Linked DNA regions of Homo sapiens. The protein of the gene in region 2 interacts with the protein of the main gene of each other region in a pairwise test. Each region holds a gene or a part of one and is shown on either strand. Other genes may lie near its edges. The genes, in order: THBS2, MMP2 and COL5A1.

Region 1 (7,118 bases), on a different chromosome or scaffold from region 2:
TCAGGCAATCCCCAGCTTGGCCCTGTGACCATCTGACAGTGGATGCCCAGCAGGCAGGGCGGGCTCCCCTCATCATCCCGATGGGCTCTTTTACCATGAGATTAGTGGAATTGAAGGTATTTCTTTTAGATCCAACTTACAAGAGTTCTGAGAGGATTATGAGGTCCCATTTCATAGACCAAGTCTATAAAATAAAATGGTTTACTGAAATTTCAGAGACTTCAGAGCGGCAGGTGCATGTACCTGTCAAGGTTATTTAGGCAGACAGTTTCACAGACCATGGAAGGATGGGGGCTTCCAGAAAGACCACATGGCATCCCACCTGCATGATCTTAAAGTGCAGTCTGCATCTTCTGTGGGCGCCTCCCCCGGAGAAATGCTGGCACCACCGCCGTGTCTCAGAGACTCACCTACAGCGATGCCGGGGTCCGAGTTGGCTGTCTGAACCAGCTCCTTGCCTTGATGGCGAATGACCCAGTTGGGATCAATTTGGGTGGTCCCTTTGGGATCCAAGGGGACCATCTGGAAGTTCCTGAAGTCTGTCTCACTGATGGCATTGTTTTCAGGACACACATCATCAATATCTGGGATGTTGTCATTGTCAAAATCATCTTTACAAATATCACCCCGTCCATCACCTATGCACAAAGAACAAGCAAAAACAAAAACAAAAACAAAGAAGCAAAGTCGGTGGTCGGTGGTTTGCCATTTGCTTTTCCGTGTCTGAGAAACATGAGTGCATCTTTCCCAGAACATCTAAGACTGAGTGCTTTGCAGTGTTTTGTGGATTCGTGCTCAACAATCTCCAAAACATTTGACTTCACAGGAACCTCAACTCTTTTCACAAAATTTTTGTGATAAATACACAGCAAAGGCCAGCACAGCAAATTCACATAAAGCCATTTCTCACCGTGTTCCAAACTCAATGCTGCAGGTATAAAACCTGAATGGCTGTCAAGTAATATCAACCTGCATTTCCAGCTTTGTGTTTGGATAGTTTTCTGAATGTCTGTTATTACTTTTCTTAGTCATCCTTGCCTTTTATAGTCTATTTGGCATTAAAGCGGAACTCACACTAAAATGGTTTTTCCTAGGGAGACATGGACTTCCGCTGTTTAGTGGGTCCTTGTCAAGTTTTCAGCGGGGTTGTGGCATGGTGGGGAGTGGGGATGAGGTGGGCCTGGTGCAAACAGGGGGACCACGAATTTGCCACATGTGTCCAGTCTATCAGTCTACGGCGATGACGATAACCTGACAGGCAGATTGCAATGTACTGAATTAGCTATCACGTGGCCTGCCGTTTTGGAGGAAAGGCAAGTTGGATTGAATATCTCATCATATTCTTCAACTAGTTTCCGTTCTGTTCAAGAACATACTCCAGCTACCACGTGGCAGGCACATAGTTGGTATCAGGGCATTCTGAAATGCTGAAATGCTGCTCTGCCTATCAGCTTCTCTCTGTCCCAGTCCCTCCCTGGGGAAAGGCTGCATGGGGAGCAAGCCCCTGCATGCCCGAACACGGAGTCCAGATGAGGCTTGCTGTGCTCACTCCATCCCTTCATGCTGCTCGGGGAGAACACAGGAGCTGCCCTTCTGATCCCAGCATCTCCCACGTACTTCTGAGTCATGCTGTCTCAGATGCCCCTCAAGTCCTTATCTCCCTCTGTCAAGGACGTGGCTTCCAAAGAGAGCCTGTGTCAGCCAGGCCCCACTCCAAGTGAGGGCCACTTTCTCACAGCCTCCCCGGAAGCCCCAGAGCACAGCTGTGCCCTTGTTTATTACTCAGGGACGCTGACTTAGAGGACTGCAGCCCATCCAGCTCCTTCCTTGGGCCCCCGTGGCTATGGGCCACCTATTCATGCTCACTGCTGAGCAAAGCAGCTCTTCCTCTCATGCTTCACACTCGTGCCACTTTTGTTGGCTTTGCTTTCAAAAAAATCCTCCTTGTCCCCTGCCTGGCCCCATACACCAAATTCCCAATTCATCCTACGTTCGTAACCCGCATTCTTTCTAGGAGATCGTCAACAATCTGGAAGTTATATGGAGGCAGGGATTTCTCCTCCTCCCGACGTGCACACACACTTGAGGCAGCACACCTGTTGAAGGGCACACACACAGCCAAGAATGTGTTGAGTGTCAGGGGAGAAGAAACTCATATTGCATGGACCCACAGCTTTAAGAGGCCCAAAGTCATTGCCCTTTTTCCAGCAGCAGATTTAAGATGATCTCCGTGCATACATATCTCTGCCCTGGCGGGTTGCTCAGAAGCCATTTTCCTCCACGCCCATGAGCTGAGAGAGCACCCACCGTCCAAGTCCTCCTGGTCTGGGTTGAACACAAGCCGGCAGTTGTCCCTGTCATCGGGGACGCCATCGTTGTCATCATCAGGGTCACAGGCGTCGCCCTGGCCGTCTCTGTCATGGTCAGCCTGGTTGGCGTTGGAGATGTAGGGGCAGTTGTCCTGGTTGTTCTGGTGGCCGTCGTCATCTATGTCCTCGTTGTTGTCACACTGGTCCCCAACAAGGTCATTGTCCACGTCGGTCTAGGGGATGGGGCGTGAGAGAAACAGCAGAGGACTGCCAGTTTGAGGAGGTGGAGAGGAACCAGCAGGACGCAAGCCTGAGAGCCGGCCTCCTCGTCCTGCAGCACAAGCCCCAGGGCCACGCAGGGGCGGCTGGCCCGAGGTCACACTGACCCTGACGTCAGGACAAGCACTGGGGCCAGGCCTCTCGGTCCAGGAATCTCTCCACCCTCTGCCACCTCTCCACAGTAATTCACTTCACTAAAGGAAGATGTGCTTCTTCGCTGGAAAAGCATGAACTACCAGGTAATTATGTCTCTTTTTTACACCATTTGCGCCATTTACACCATTTACATCATAGGATAATATATCCTATGAGCTGCATCAAGATAACTGTCCTCCCTTGTCTCTTTCAAACGCAAACCTGGAAATGAAGCCAATTCCTATGTTGGCATCAGGAAAATGGGGAGAGAATTCTGTGAAGACACAACCTCGCTCCAGCTGATGAGGTGAAGGCGTCTATTCATTTGGCCTGTGGCCACTGAGATACAAGAATAGTGCTGAGATTTGAGTTGAATAAATGTTTTCAATTGAAATCATTGAAAACTCCATGTTATCCTGTCTTTGTGGAGCTCATGGAAAACTCCCAAGGCCCCATGGAGGGGACTGATGAGGACCTGAGACCCGCCTGCCCATGGCTGCCCTCATCTGGTCAGGGTTGTGCACCAGGGGCAGTTGTCACAGTGATCCCCCACACCGCCACCGTCCCCGCGTCCCTCTGATGAGGACCTCCAACCCCGCCTGTCTGCGGCTGCCCTCACCTGGTCAGGGTTGTGCACCAGGGGGCAGTTGTCACAGTGATCCCCCACACCGTCACCATCCGTGTCCCTCTGGTCAGTGTTGTAGACGTAGGGACAATTGTCTCGTTCATTGAAGACATCTGTAAGTGTTTAAAGGGGGAAGAAAACAAAAACAAACCAGAAGGACAGGTGAGTTTAGAAAAAGCACATTGTTTTTCCTATCACACGAAATTGCTTACAGCCACACTTCTATTTAATTATAATAAAAAGACGCCTAAGAATATAGTAAAATATAAAGACTATTAGATTTTAGAAGAACATATGACATATTTCATTACAGTTCAAATACCTTTCATTTGAAATAGAACCAACTTTTGGAGATTTCTGGGTAATGTTGCAGGAGGGGTAGTTGAATGTGCTGTCGCCGTGTAAATCTGAGCTTGCTAAATTGCTTATTTCTCCCTAATACCCACTTGGAAAGTATGTGTTGAGTTCCCAGGAGTTTATCATCCATGCACATGAGTAGGAAAAAAACAATGGCAGAGAGTGGCAGGGTTTTTAGATGTCATATCTTATCTTAAGAAATCTGAAAGTGATGAGTTGCATTGATACTGAAGTTACAAAAATATAAACTAGCACTGAACTAAACAATACCATCAGTGACAGTGTCACAAATGACAGAGCAAAATGTTACACGGCAGCGAGTCCACAGGAAGAGCCAGAACTGAGCTGAGACGCTCGCCTTGCTTTGGTCAGGTGAGGTCTGGAGAAGGGAAGTAAGGAACACCTAAAAAATAAAAATGGAAGGGACTGGAGCTTGAGATCTGCATCCAGCACATCACAGACGCCATCCTGGATGGGGAGCCGAGGAGCCCCCTGGCCACCACGAGCCCTCAGACAGCAACCCACCACATTCCCAGAGAACGAGAGGAGGGTGGAGGCAGAAATCAGTGGAAAAGATCAGACTGAGAAACCCGCTGTGAGACAGAACAGCAGGTTGGGGTGGCTCAGAAAGGGGGTGGCTGGCGCCGGGCTGGGAAGAGGACCCCACGAGGCGAAGTGTGGAGGAGCTGGGGCCGAGCTCCAGCGTGGAGGCGAGCCTGCCCCCAGCTCTTGCTGGTTCTACAGAAGCACTCGCCTGGTCTCCAGGCACCCCAAGAGAAGGGATGACCATGCGGTGACAGTGGCACTGGGTTGCAGAGCTCGCTTACCAAGGCCAGCGAACTCTCCGGATAAAGCAGCAACCGGGATCAGTGGCAGAGGTAACCACAATACACCCACGTTATTCTAACTCCTAGAAGCTCAGTTTGATGAAAACATGAAATGGCTTCTTGGAATTTTTGAATGAAGGGTGAACATTAGAAAAGATGCCATGAAGAAGCACGAGGCCCAGGACTGCAAGGCTGGGGTCAGAGAGAGGAGGATACCAAATGCATAGCTTTCTCTAGGGCGGTCCTGTGGCTGGTGTCCCCTGACCTTCAGGAAAAGGCAAGGCAGAATAAGCATGGGTCCCTATGGGAATAACTGAATGAATCATTTAATCTTATAGTAGTGTAAAAATGAAAGGAGCTTATCAAAATTCAGAATAAAACATGAAACTTGCCAATGCCTCCAATTGCGACCCTTAAAATGCATGCATTGGGCCGGGCGCGGTGGCTCACGCCTGTAATCCCAGCACTTTGGGAGGCCAAGGCAGGCGGATCATTTGAGGTCAGGAGCTTGAGACCAGCCTGGCCAACATGGTGAAACCTCGTCTCTACTTAAAATACAAAATTAGCTAGGCGTGGTGGTGTGCACCTGTGATCCCAGCTACTCAGGAGGCTGAAGCAGGAGACTCACTTGAACCCAAAAGGTGGAGATCGCAGTGAGCCAAGATGGTGCTACTGCCCTGGGCAACAATAGTGAAACTCCATCTCAAAAAAAAAAAAAAAGTGCACGCATGGGAAGGAGCAGAAGCACCCACCGTCCCCATCAATGTCCACGGAGCAGGCGTCACCCTCTCCATTGTTGTCTGTGTCGATCTGGGCAGGGTTGTGCACGTAAGGGCAGTTGTCACAGCGGTCCCCAACCTCATCCTTGTCATAGTCAGCCTGGCGGGGATTGAAGAGGAGCTGGCAGTTGTCCTGGAAAACCAAGAAAGGGAAGACTTTAACGAAGATCATAGGAATGTGTGTCGGGCCGTTTAGCACTTATAAGTTATGTACTCAAGGTTGATGAAAATCAATATAGAAATCAAACAAACACAAAAGCCAGTTAGGGCTGGACGGTGGCTCACACCTTTAATCACAGCTGGGCACTGTGGCTCACACCTGTAATCCCAGCACTTCAAAAAGCCAGTCAGGGCAGGGCACGGAGGCTCACACCTTTAATCCCAGCACTATGGGAGGCTGAGGCGGGCGGATCACCTGAGGTCAGGAGTTCAAGACCAGGGCCGGGCGCAGTGGCTCACACCTTTAATCCCAGTGCTTTAAAAAGCCAGTTAGGCCCGGGCACAGTGGCTCACACCATTAATCCCAGCACTTTGGGAGGCCAAGGCAGGCGGGTCACCTGAGGTCAGGAGTTCGAGACCAGCCTGGCCAACATGGTGAAACCCCATCTCTCCTAAAAATACAAAAATGAGCCGGGCGTGGTGGTGTGCGCCTGTAATGCCAGTTACTCAGGAGACTGAGGCAAGAGAATCGCTTGAACCCAGAAGATGGAGATTGCAGTGAGCCAAGATCATGCCATTGCACTCAAGCCTGAGCGACCAAAAAAAAAAAAAAAAAGAGTTAGCCCTCGCCAAACACTTTTTCCATATCAAATCATTTTATCATTATTTATGCATCTGTCTTTTGTTGAAAATTTGTAGATTGCTAAGGCAAAAATGGTATATCATACACTTCATGGTGAGGAGAGATATGTAAATATCAAATAAATGAATGGATTAGTGAGTCAATGTCTCCCATCAAAGTCAGATGTAAAAAAGCAGTGAGTAAAATCTTGATCTATTCTTGCTAGAGCTGTTTTGTGTACAAATACATTAAACCATTTGTGTTTGCAGCAATTTTCTTAGAAAAATGGTAATATTTTAAATGTTGCCATAAAGGCAAGTCTATCACTCATGGTGGTGTCAGCCTTGCCCATCACTGGCTCCTCAGCAGAAGGAGAGGAGGTCTTCTATTTTTTTGCAGTTAAAATAGAAAAAATTATTCAAAACATTTCCGGCAGCACACCCTGGGCAGCCCCATGCACTGAGGTAAAATCCGCTTTTGCAAAGGACTGTCTTTATAGTGACCTTTGGGAACTGCCTATGCACAAACGCTTGCAGGACAATGGCAGTTACGTTGACAAGGGCTGTTTGGTATAAAGTGGCCTCCTGTGGACCTCGCTGCTCCTGGAACCCAGGGCAGGTGCGCGGCACAAGCTGCTCCTACCTTCTCATCGGTCACACCGTCATTGTCATCGTCATCATCACAGGCATCGCCAATCCCGTCCTTGTCAAAGTCTTCCTGCCCAGAATTTGGCAGATGGGGGCAGTTATCCTGCAATTGGAGAAGGAAGAATACTTGGAAAAACATTTAGGAAAGCGCCTCTTTCAGGAATGCAGGTGAAATGAAACCAGCATGGCGCCGAGGAAGGAAGCGTGCCCCATCAGTCCTCGATCTCAAGCGGGAGCTGAGAGAGGAGCCAGGAGGCCAGAAGCGCATGAATTTCTTCTCAACTCCTGCCCTGGAAATTATGTCACCACTACTCACGAGGGAGACAAAAGAAACTTGTGTTCGGAGCCCAGAATCCCAGTGAGGTTGCCAAACAACTGC
Region 2 (7,118 bases):
CAAAGGGAGTTGGATGAAGCTGATGGCACCAGCACATGCCCCTCAGCTGTGAGCCCCCTTGGGCAGGGCTTTGCAGAGACCAACCTCTGTGTATGCTGCACAAAGCAGGCGCTCAGTAAATTCCTGTTGGAGGAAGGGAAGAAGGAAAGGAGGGAGGGATAGAGAGGAGGGCAGGAAGGAGACAGGGAGGAAAGCACGGAGCTCTTAATAAAAAACAGACTAAAAGGTGGAGATACAGACCAGGAAAGGCAGGGAAGAGAGATTGCAGGGTCAGAGAGGAGGAGAGAGAAGTCTCTGCCAGAGAGCCTGAGAGAAAAGGGATGCAGGTCGGTCAGAGGATCCTGAGCAGGCCTGACATTTAAGTGTCACCAATTCAACTGTTGATGCCCAATGTCTGTTCTGATTTCAGTGCCCAGGCCATACCAGGTGACAAGTATCCTGACTAGCTACACGGACATCTTGGTGTGGATGTCATTCGCACAGATGTCTTAGCACCCCTGTCTTGGGGAAAGGAGGTGGGCACTCGGAGTCTTATGGGTTTTTTTTTTGTCAGACAGCAGGTGCTGGGCCCTGAGGGAGGGAGAGGGAGTGGCACCCACCGGTCTCAGGGCAGAAGCCATACTTCTTGTCGCGGTCGTAGTCCTCAGTGGTGCCGCACCAGCGGTAGCCATCCGTGCGGCCCTCAGTGGTGCAGCTGTCATAGGATGTGCCCTGGAAGCGGAATGGAAACTTGCAGGGCTGTCCTTCAGCGTTGCCGCCCATGGTGAACAGGGCTAAGGGTGGGGGAGAGAGGGAAGGATGTGAATGAGACATGCTTCCATGGGCACAGGGCTGGCTGGCTGCCCACCTGCCGGTTCACACCAGTGAAGTTGATGCATTGTTAAAATATTAAGAAAACATCTCTACTGGTTGGTAAGGAGCTGCTTCTCTGAGCTCCCAGAGAGAACCCCTGCTTCCCTGGTTATCCCAATCCCTCCCGTGGGACCTTGTGGACCACCCAACAACAAAATGATTGACACCTGGCACACAGCAAGGGCTTCTAGAACCCTGCCTCAGCCCCAAGGGCACTGTCCATTCTGCCTGGTCCACACCTGTACCATGCAAATTTCATGTAATAATGATGTATGACATGAATATATCAGTCATGGCAGGCAGGACCACGAGAATCTCTCTCCATTTGATAGGTGGAGAAATCAAGGCTAGGACAAAGATGGTTCTCAAACTGCTCATGGTCACAGAAATGAAAGAAGTGAATGAAGGTTGTAACTAAAAACTACAAAACACACTAATCTCAATCTCTCTTGCTTAGTCTGTCACTCTCATATATGTGTGTGTGCGTGCACACGCATACACAGAAAGCTTGCTTTACCTCCTGTCAACCCCAGGCCCCTTCCTGGATGGCCTTGTTGCAGTCTCTGTAGGAAGGAGAGAAAGAATGAAGAGGAGGAGGGAGGGAGAGGGAGGTGGTGCCTTCAGGTCCCTTTTACTAAACACTCTGGGCTCCTACTTTGACATCTTCAAGACAGGGGCCATAAATGGAGAGTTGGGGGAGGGAGTGGGGTTCAGAGCCTGGCCTGTCTGTCTTGGATTCTCCCCATCCTCCCCTCATCCACCCAAAGCTAAAAAATGGTGTCTCTGGAATTGCCAACCAGCAAAACCACAAGTCCATAACAAGGACCATCTGTGCACAACGGCGCCAGAGGTGACCTCACCAGCCCCCGTTAACTCCACCATGGCCGGAATGGAGCCCAGTCCCTGGCCTCCCACCACAGAACTCGAGGCCCTGTATCCTCACCACTCCCCTCTCTACCAAAAGACCTTGTCCTGCAATGCCAGAAACAATGGCACCTAGAGAAAAGGCAAGACTGAGTCCAGATACCTTAGTGGCCTCAGAGTTGAGAAAGGCAAAGCGTTAACTTCGACCAATGCCAGCCCCCTGCCTCTGACCTCTCATTTCTACCACCCAGGAAGCCCCTGTCTCCTCCCAAATTCCCCTGACAAGGATGGCAAGAATCAGACACTGACTCAGCCATCAGCAGGGGCTGAGTAACAACAATCTCTGCCTCGAGACCCAGACACGTGCGTGTTGTGCGTACTTGCATCTGGCTAAGCACAAAGTAAATGGCTAATGTCCAATGCAGGGAATAACCCTTCCCAAATTTATGAAATACAGCTGTTTCCACATCTAACTATCACCAAAGCTTTCTGTTCCTATCAGAGGGGTGACACAGGGAAGGGTTAACGCCACATGTAATCCCTACCGGGAAACGCAAGATACAAAAAATATTTTTATTTCAAAATGTCTGACTTATTAATGGTGAATGGCTTAAACTCTTACTTAATATAAAGTTTAGCTCTGGTAGTAAAAGCATAAACAGGAAGGGAATTAACTAGCTCTTTGTTTCTTTCATTCTGTCAAGATGGTTGGTGCTTAGTTTTCAGTTACAGTGGGGTTAGGGAGATTCACAGACATAAAATTACAGACAAAAAGACAGTCTTTAGTCTATGTAGACTATAGAGTCTTTGTGACATGGGAAAGAAGATAGTGTTAAAAATTTTTAGACTTTTTTCCATTTTCGCCAGGTTTTCTGGGCTTTCAATCTGCAGAATTATCAAATATGATGACTTCATAGAGTATGAAGTTACATTGTCTTTTTGTGATTTATGACTATTAAGTGTGTCAAGGATATTTTTAAAAAGGATTGAGTGTGTATGTCAATATCTGTACCCCATTTTAAAAGATTTCCCCCATGTGGCTTCAAAATCTCTGAAATGTTGCATCTCAGGCACTGACAAGCACACAAACACAAATACTGAGTCAAGCCTAAAGTCTTTATCAAGACACAGAGATGCAGACACAAGCTAGACAGGAGGCAGAAAAAGACAGTGCCCAAGAGAGGCAGATAGTATAGCCCCCGTGCCCAGACACACACACACACACACACACACACACACACACACACACACAGGCACACACACACACACACACACACGCATTAGCAGAGGCAGCATCAGGACCAAGGCAGGAGCAATAGCTGAAATTCCTCAGTTGGAGTACGCAAACCAGGTTGAGTCCAGCCCTGGTCTGAGTCCTGCCTCCCTATCACACTGCTAGGTTTCCAGCTACCAGCAAGCCTTTCCTCATGCCCTTGAAGTATCAATCTTGACTGAAGTGTAAAGACTGGTTCTAGAGAGAACCACTGGGCATTGTAATAGTTCTAAGTTCACTCCAATATATATTAGAAATAAATAATTAGCAAATCAAATCTGTGACTTCCTAAATGATTGCTAATGGTGAAACTTAAAAAAAATCAACTTGATTTAATTAGAGTACTACGTTCATCATGGTACTGGTGGGAGAGAAACAGCAATGGCTCAGATCAGGATGGGGGGGAACTGAGTGAAGGACGTTGGAGGGATGCTCATTAACTGGCAGTGGCAGCCAGTCCTGGAGAGTGTGGAGGGAAGAGCACACTGGGGAGCCCGGGAAGCTGGAGGCTTGGGGTGGAAAGTCTTGGGGACTAGAGTGGATGCTCACCTTCATGGGGACAGAAGCCGTACTTGCCATCCTTCTCAAAGTTGTAGGTGGTGGAGCACCAGAGGAAGCCATCGCTGCGGCCGGTATCAGTGCAGCTGTTGTACTCCTTGCCATTGAACAAGAAGGGGAACTTGCAGTACTCCCCATCGGCGTTCCCATACTTCACACGGACCACTAAAGAGTGACATGGAAGGGGGAGGTTGGACTTCTCCAGGCCTTCTTTGGAGACCAAGATTCTGACTCACCCAGATGTGTGACTTTCCTCCCCTCCCACCTCTCTGGTCCAAGCAAATGGAGTGGAGAGAGGACAGGAGAGAAGGTCTGGGGCATGCAGAGGGCCCCTTTCTCACCTTGGCCTTCTCCCAAGGTCCATAGCTCATCGTCATCAAAATGGGAGTCTCCCCCAACACCAGTGCCTGGGGCGAAGGCATGAGCCAGGAGTCCGTCCTTACCGTCAAAGGGGTATCCATCGCCATGCTCTGAAACACACACTGGGTCTTAGCGTCTAGCTGTGCCACCTAGACCCTGAAACCCCTCCACACCCCATCTACATGTGGAGCCTGTCAGCCCACCCAGCATCTGTCCCCTTCCCTTGTCCCAGTGGGGTTATCCAGGACTGTCAACAGGAGCTCAGTAGAGATCTGCTGACCTGGTTGTTACCATCCTATGGTCTACACTGCTCTCCCAGGTTTACATGACTCCCAGTATCCATACCCTCTACCTCCATTGTCTACTCTACCACCATGACACTATATGTACCACATACCCACATTACCACACTAGTGTCCTCACCCCATCTTCATCATCCCCAGTGTCTATGCCATCCTCCATCCTGTCAATACTGCCCTCTTAACCACAATCCTGCCTTCATGTCACACTATCACCAATATCTGCAACATGAATCCTCATGCCCACCTTGTCACCAAGGCCTGTACCACCCACCCACTTGTCTACATTGTTTCCCCTGCTCTTTACCTTCATCACTTACCACTCAGTGTCTATACCACATACCTTTATGTCTGTGCTACTGGCAGTGTTCACACCATAAACTCACATGGCCACCTGGCCCCAGGTTCTACGACCCTTCCTCTAGTGTCTACACTGCTCCACTGTTTCCAAACCACTCTCATATATCTACAGTTCCTCAGTGTCTACCAGCATCATCCAACAGAGCTTTCTGTGATTAAGAGGAATATTCTTTGTCTGTGCTGTCCAAAATCAATAGTCACTAGCCTCCTGTGTCTTTTGAGCACTTAAAATGTGCCCAGTGTGACCAGGAAACTAATTTAAAATTTTTAACTAATTTAAATTTAAACAGCCATGTATATTCTGCCTAATGGCTGCCATATTGGACAGCACAGTAGACCACTTGCTTCGGGTTTAGACGGCCTCCAGGTTATACCACAACACACCATCTGCCCCCATGTCAACGTGGCTCTCCAGTGTCCACTCCGTGTTGTGCTGCCCCCATCTAAACCACCCCCAGGGCCCACACCATCTACTGTCCTATCTAAGCCGCCCTTAGGATCCCCACGCCCCTCTAATGTCCATCTCACCCCCTCGTCTCAACACTGATCCCTGCTGGCCCCTCTTCTGCCCCATCTTCTGCCTACCCCAGCGGCCAAAGTTGATCATGATGTCTGCCTCTCCATCATGGATTCGAGAAAACCGCAGTGGGGTCACATCGCTCCAGACTTGGAAGGCACGAGCAAAGGCATCATCCACTGTCTCTGGGTCCAGATCAGGTGTGTAGCCAATGATCCTGGAGGTGGTAGAACTGCATGTGAGTGTGTATGCATGTGCATAAGTGTATGTATATGCAAGTATGTGTGTGTGCACAGATGTATGAAAAAGTTTGAGTGTGTGTGTGTATGTGAACATACAAGTATATGCACAAGCACGGGAAGGGTGCACAGGTATGTGTATGTATATGTGAGCATGTGCCTGCGTGTATGTGTGTGTAGGCTGGGCAGGGCTCACTGCCAAGGACAACCCTCCCAGAATGCCTTGAAGACCCAGGGAGTCCCAGGCCAGCCAACATTTTTAGGCCCCAGCTCAGGAGTTCCATCTGTCACTTCTGGCTGGTGGGGGAGGGCCATAAGTAGTGCATTATGGGGCACAGGGCAAAGATCCCACCATTGGAACCCAGCACCACCCATACAGAGCACAGCTCTTGGCCCAATTAGCAACCAGTTATAACCCAATTGGGCTGCTAAACCCAATTAGCTACCAATCATCACGTTCCTTCTGCCCATCCCAATGACCTCATCTAAAAACAATAACAATGACTAGCATTACTACACTCTTGCTCTGTGTCAAAAATCATAGAAGCCGTTTGTATTAGTTCAGCCTAGCTTAGTTCCCCAACATACCATATAAGGGCATTTTTTAAGCCCCATTTTGTAGATTGGAAAGCCAACATTCACAGCACTGAAAAGTAACCCAATGTCTCATGGCCAGCAAGTATGAAACTCAAGTCTGTCTGACTTCATTTTCTAAGAACTGTGTATTGAAACTCCCTAAGATGTCAAGCCTTCACAAAAGACACCTCATGGATCCCCTGAGTGGAGAGAATGCATGGGTCAAGGAGACTCGTGTCCCTCAGCCCCATGGCCCTGCCTCCCCAAGCCCTGCCCCGGCACCTGTATGTGATCTGGTTCTTGTCCCACTTGGGCTTGCGAGGGAAGAAGTTGTAGTTGGCCACATCTGGGTTGCCGCAGCGTGGCTTCCGCATGGTCTCGATGGTATTCTGGTCAAGATCACCTGTCTGGGGCAGTCCAAAGAACTTCTGCATCTTCTTTAGTGTGTCCTTCAGCACAAACAGGTTGCAGCTCTCCTTGGGGCAGCCATAGAAGGTGTTCAGGTATTGCTGAAAGAAATGCACACCCCCAAGGCAATTAGCCACATTAGGATGGCACAGTACTGACCAAAGCAGGCTGTAGCAATCAGCCCCCCAACCCAGTGCCATAGTCCAGACAGGAAATAAGCCAGGGGTCCCAGAGCACTGGGTGGAGTACTGGGTTCCCAAACCAGCACGGTCACCCATTAGTTGAGCGACAGGACATACAGCTATAGAGAGCATGGCTACCACTTGTTGGTGCTGGGTGCTGACTATATGTCCAGGCACTAAAGTCAGAATATGTTAACTCATTTAATGCTCAAAACTCTGTAATGTAGATATACTAACCCTATTATACAGAGGAGGAAACTGAAGCACAGAGAGGTTAAGAAACTTGCTTACGATCACACAGTTCACAAATGGTAGATCTGGATTTGGGACAAAGCAATCTGGCTCCAGAGGCTGTGATATGGAATCATTATACTCCAGCATCCTTCCTTTACCTCTATCAACTCATTTATCTACCTTGCGGCTGGTGACTTGGGGACTTTTTTCCTCCTGTTTTCTTCTAAAGAGATTCAAGGACTATGTGCATGGGCTCTGGCAGTAGACAGACCTGGGTTTAAATCCTGAATCAGCCATTTGCAAAAAGAAAGTAGTCCTGTCCTTCATGAGTCATACAACTGGCCCTGCCCAAACTGAGGCCCAAACTGAGCAGGTCCCTGCAGAGGTTCAGGGAGC
Region 3 (4,659 bases), on a different chromosome or scaffold from region 2:
CCCTCACAGGGTGGAGTCTCTCGGGTGCCTCTTTTATAGGGGCACTAATACCACTCATGGGGTTCCACCCTCAGGACCTCCTCAACTCCCATCGAACGGCCCCACCTCCTAATACCATCTTTGGGAACGGGAACATTAAGATCATAGTCAGGGAGAATAAGGCCCTTCAAGGCCACGCCCTCCCCATAGGTCAGGGAGCAGAATACCGGGAGAGCTGGAGCTGCTGTCTGCTATCCGAATCTCCGGCCTGGGAGTCTGCGCTGGGCCCTCTGCAGGGCTGCATCCTGGGGTCACTGCCTCCCATCCGGGAGGGAACCCTGGCTGGCCCCTACTTGTTTATCTGATCATTTCTTTTGGGGATGGGGCAGTGGAAGGAGATCCTTCCCAGGCCCAGATCCAGCTGCGACTGTAAATCCAGTCTGGGTCTGAGGTAGCAAAAGCCATCTGCCCAGGATGCGTTTGCAGGCTCCTGGTTTGCGGGAAAGGTGCGGCCTCCAGGGCCCTTGTCTTGGGGGAAGTTGACGGGACAGCAGGGCCAGCTCAGCCTCAGTTATAAAGAACACTGGGAGTTATATTTGGGTGGCTTTGGGGAGGGACCAAAGAATCTCACACCTGCGCTGCCTGTGTTCTGGGAGGGAGGCGGCCTCTCCTAGGCTTCCATCCCACATCCCAGCGCCCAGGGTTGTGCTGTTTTGAGCAAGGGATGGGTGCTGACTCATCCTGCAGGCCAGGTTCATTGCACTACCCCTGCCCTCTGTGCCTCAGTTTACCTAAGACTCCTCTAGACCAGATGGTGTGGAAGGTCCCCACCCCTTCCCATACTTGTGGAGGTGAAGACCCAGCCCACCGAGTGCCTAAGGCAGTGTGTGGCAGGTGGTCGTAGGGGGGTCTTACTTGGCTCAAGGCTCTGCCGGTGCCGCCTCGGACTCCTTCCTTTTCGAACCTGGAGCCCCCGTTTGATTTTCCAGTGTGCCCTGCTTGTTCTGTAGCTGGCCCTGGGTCCTGGGGAGGCTGCCTGGAAGTGAATACCTGGGGCATCACAAGGAGTCTGGACTGGGCACGGTGGGAAGGCTGATCAGCTTCAATCCTGTGTGTGCCTCAGCCACCCCTGAAGCCTTGGGAGGGTCCTGTCGCCTCGCTGATGCCCACACCACCCCACCTCCGACCTGTGCAGGGGGACTCTTGGGACATCCACCGGGGTTAAATGCATGCTCTGATCAGCCATATTTCCTCCAACACTTGCCCGGGCAAGCGCAGCCCTGGGTAGGAGACAGGACACCAGCCTGGGTTTTGGAGCCAGACAGATTGTGGGGGGTGATTGGTAAACCCCAAGACCCCCAACTGTTCTTAACCACCGGCCATCTGTCTCCCTCTTCCCCAGACCAAGAAAGGCTACCAGAAGACGGTTCTGGAGATCGACACCCCCAAAGTGGAGCAGGTGCCCATCGTGGACATCATGTTCAATGACTTCGGTGAAGCGTCACAGAAATTTGGATTTGAAGTGGGGCCGGCTTGCTTCATGGGCTAGGAGCCGCCGAGCCCGGGCTCCCGAGAGCAACCTCGTGACCTCAGCATGCCATTCGTTCGTGAGTGTCCCGTGCACGTCCTGACCCTGGACAGTGAAGGCTTCTCCCTCCCCTCCCACCTGACTTCATCTACGCCTCGGCACCACGGGGTGTGGGACCCCAGCCCGGAGAGAACAGAGGGAAGGAGCCGCGCCCCCACCTGGAGCTGAATCACATGACCTAGCTGCACCCCAGCGCCTGGGCCCGCCCCACGCTCTGTCCACACCCACGCGCCCCGGGAGCGGGGCCATGCCTCCAGCCCCCCAGCTCGCCCGACCCATCCTGTTCGTGAATAGGTCTCAGGGGTTGGGGGAGGGACTGCCAGATTTGGACACTATATTTTTTTCTAAATTCAACTTGAAGATGTGTATTTCCCCTGACCTTCAAAAAATGTTCCAAGGTAAGCCTCGTAAAGGTCATCCCACCATCACCAAAGCCTCCGTTTTTAACAACCTCCAACACGATCCATTTAGAGGCCAAATGTCATTCTGCAGGTGCCTTCCCGATGGATTAAAGGTGCTTATGTTTTTGTGAGTTTTAAGTAAATATTTGTATTGTATTGTTATAAATGTTAAGTGTGCCTGGCTTTCAATCATGCACGGAAACCCAGTCTCAGTCCCACGGACAGAATGGGCGAGGCATGGATTCTGGGTTGCAGTACCGTTCTGATTAGAAATAGGAAGTCTCCCCACCCCCGCCCTGGCCAAGAACGTGCAATAAATTGGAAGTTTGCCCCGGGGCAGCAAGAATTTATGCTGCCATTGAAAAGCAGGTACCAGTGCCCCTTTTCAGACAGTTTTTGATTCGCTCTAGACTTTTTTTTTTTTTAATAGGGAAAAAATTTGATAATTTTCTTTTTTCTACATGCACTTAAGACTAAAACACAGGTTTGGATTAATTTTATTTGCTTCCTTTTTCCGCTTTTCTTCCCGCAGAGCCTGATGGGAGAATGTCCAGGGCAGGGAAACCACATTTTTTGTAGGTGATAACTCAATGAAAATTGGTGCTTATTTTTTACACTTCTCTCTTGTGGCTCTCTTGTGGTGCTATCTATCTGTTTTAAGGTCTCCTTGAAGGCGCACTGGGGACCCTGGCCATGCCTCGTTCTCCCTGCTTTCTTTATCCTGTTATTGCCTCCACAGTCTGTTGCCAAGGACTCTAAGATCAATGCACGTCACTTTCCTTTCCACTGGGCAGGATAGCCAAGCACACTCCCTCCTGCGCTCTCCCGCCCCGGTGCGTCCACTCCCGAGGGCTGTTATGAGGACTGGGTTGTGCCTACTTGATTTGAAAACACACACAAGCAATAAAAAGCCTCTTCCTGCATTGTCTGTGGTGTGACCATAGCAGATTATATTTGGTTCCTGAATGTTTGTGGTGCTAATTTCTGTGTTTGTTCCAAGCCGTTCAGTCATGCCATGCGCTGCCTCGGTAGATGGAGTAATGTACAATGAACTCCATGAGTCTCTCCAGGGCTGCCTGCAGCACGTCTTTTCCAAGTAGCCTATTTGGATTCCCATCTCAAATGTCCTGGATGCGAGCGTCAGCGGCTCCAGAGCTCGGGGCGGGTGAGGTCCCCTTTGGGGAACCCTTTCCTGGCCATCGAGGTCGGGGGGCTGCCGTCTGTGGGCAGGAGGACCCGAGGGGCAGCCAGGAAAGGCGATCTCTTCACTGTGAAAAGTTGCCCGGGTGCAGCGCCTTTTCCTTCTACCATGGGAAATGCAGGCTGGGCCCTTGGGGTGAGCCTGCGGGGCTCTGGTGCTGTCCCCGACCCCCACCACCACCAGAATGCAGTTCCAGCTTAGGAAGCCACAAACAAGCCACCCAGGAGGAACAAAACACCGCCAGCGTGGATTTTCCAAATTTCCCTGGAAAGTAAGTCTCGCTCTTGCCAAAGAAAAGTCTGGCTTGGAGAGTCTCTGGAGCCCAGGATGCCAGCATGTGCCAATGACTGTCACCTTCATCTCTTCAAAAGAAAAGCCATAGCCGAGGACTGTCCCGCGACCCCCGTGGACTGCGTCTAGGTCATGTGATTCTGTTTTCATTTCTCATCCCATCCAATTTGTCCTTTTCTCCTGTCATTTTCTTCCTCTGTGGTCCCTTCAAAGTTGTTATAATTTGTACTGAACTTCAAAATGTGTCCCGTTCTCCCCAGACCACTCTAGCCACAGTATATTGCAATAAAATTACTTCTTATATTTGCAGAAATTCTTTTGGTGTAATTTTATTTTTTCCTCTCAATATATATAATTGGACAAACGCTGGCAAAAAGAAAAAAATGGTAAGCAAAAAACCCAAGATAAAGTTTCGAGGACATCAGGCCTTTTGAAATACAATGTCAAATGACACATTGTACGGTTTCAAAAAATCCGCTAGACATGTCATAAGTTTTAACTGTAATGCCCAGGAAAGGATATCTTAAAATATTCTAAACTTGTGTAACAAAGGAATAATTAACTGTAATAGTTTTTCAATAAATCGAGTTGGGTGTTTCCACCGTAAACAGATGTGAGTGACTCTCTTCTTAAGTGTGGCCAGGCCCCTCCCAGACAGGACTGCACACAGTCCCAGGACGCTAGGAGCTCTGGAGATAACCACACTGGCCACCCAGAGAAAGGAAGGGATGGCCCCGGCTGTCCTTAGGTGGAGCTTGTCCCTCAGGAGTGGCCAAGGCTGGCATGGACAGCTTTGTGCCCTTGGGAGGATGTTAGAACGTAACCGGGCACTAGCCCGAGAAGTGAGTTTCAGCCACTGCTGGGTGTCCACACCACCGTGTACTGTCCTCACTCTTCACTCCTGGCAGTCAGCACCCTGCGAGAATGTTCTTGAAGCTCTCCAGCACTGCCCTTCCAGCTGTGTAGCAGGATTAGACTCCCTAGCTCCTTGTGGCTAGAGGTCGGGGAAGGCACGGGGCTCGTTGCAGCCGATGACCTTGAGCCCACGTGGCATTCGCCTCTTCCGGTCTGAAGGTGTGGTTCCCTCGGGCACAGCACCAGCCATGTTTCGTGGAGGGGCTACGTCACCAGCAGGTTCCCTGAGTGAGCCCCCTGCCAGCTTGTGAGAACTGGTAGCAGGAGCAGGAGAAGCACATTTT

What was found.
Region 1: the proteins of MMP2 (region 2) and THBS2 interact in a two-hybrid assay, tested with the Homo sapiens proteins (one study listed by BioGRID).
Region 3: the proteins of MMP2 (region 2) and COL5A1 interact in binary tests that used the Homo sapiens proteins (3 or more experiments, as listed by UniProt).

Annotation. Positions count from the first base shown.
Region 1 is NC_000006.12:169,222,838-169,229,955, forward strand, and holds part of THBS2 (thrombospondin-2 isoform 1 precursor), read right to left. Parts: intron 6,843-7,118; coding exon 6,735-6,842; intron 5,445-6,734; coding exon 5,285-5,444; intron 3,462-5,284; coding exon 3,343-3,461; intron 3,118-3,342; exon of another isoform or gene 2,958-3,117; intron 2,828-2,957; exon of another isoform or gene 2,543-2,827; coding exon 2,308-2,542; intron 639-2,307; coding exon 411-638; intron 1-410. UniProt on the Homo sapiens protein: Adhesive glycoprotein that mediates cell-to-cell and cell-to-matrix interactions. Ligand for CD36 mediating antiangiogenic properties.
Region 2 is NC_000016.10:55,482,198-55,489,315, reverse strand, and holds part of MMP2 (72 kDa type IV collagenase isoform 1 preproprotein), read right to left. Parts: intron 6,408-7,118; coding exon 6,181-6,407; intron 5,301-6,180; coding exon 5,152-5,300; intron 4,018-5,151; coding exon 3,889-4,017; intron 3,713-3,888; coding exon 3,539-3,712; intron 774-3,538; coding exon 600-773; intron 1-599.
Region 3 is NC_000009.12:134,840,776-134,845,434, forward strand, and holds the end of COL5A1 (collagen alpha-1(V) chain isoform 1 preproprotein), read left to right. Parts: intron 1-1,381; coding exon 1,382-1,528; 3' UTR 1,529-4,068; downstream 4,069-4,659. UniProt on the Homo sapiens protein: Type V collagen is a member of group I collagen (fibrillar forming collagen). It is a minor connective tissue component of nearly ubiquitous distribution. Type V collagen binds to DNA, heparan sulfate, thrombospondin, heparin, and insulin.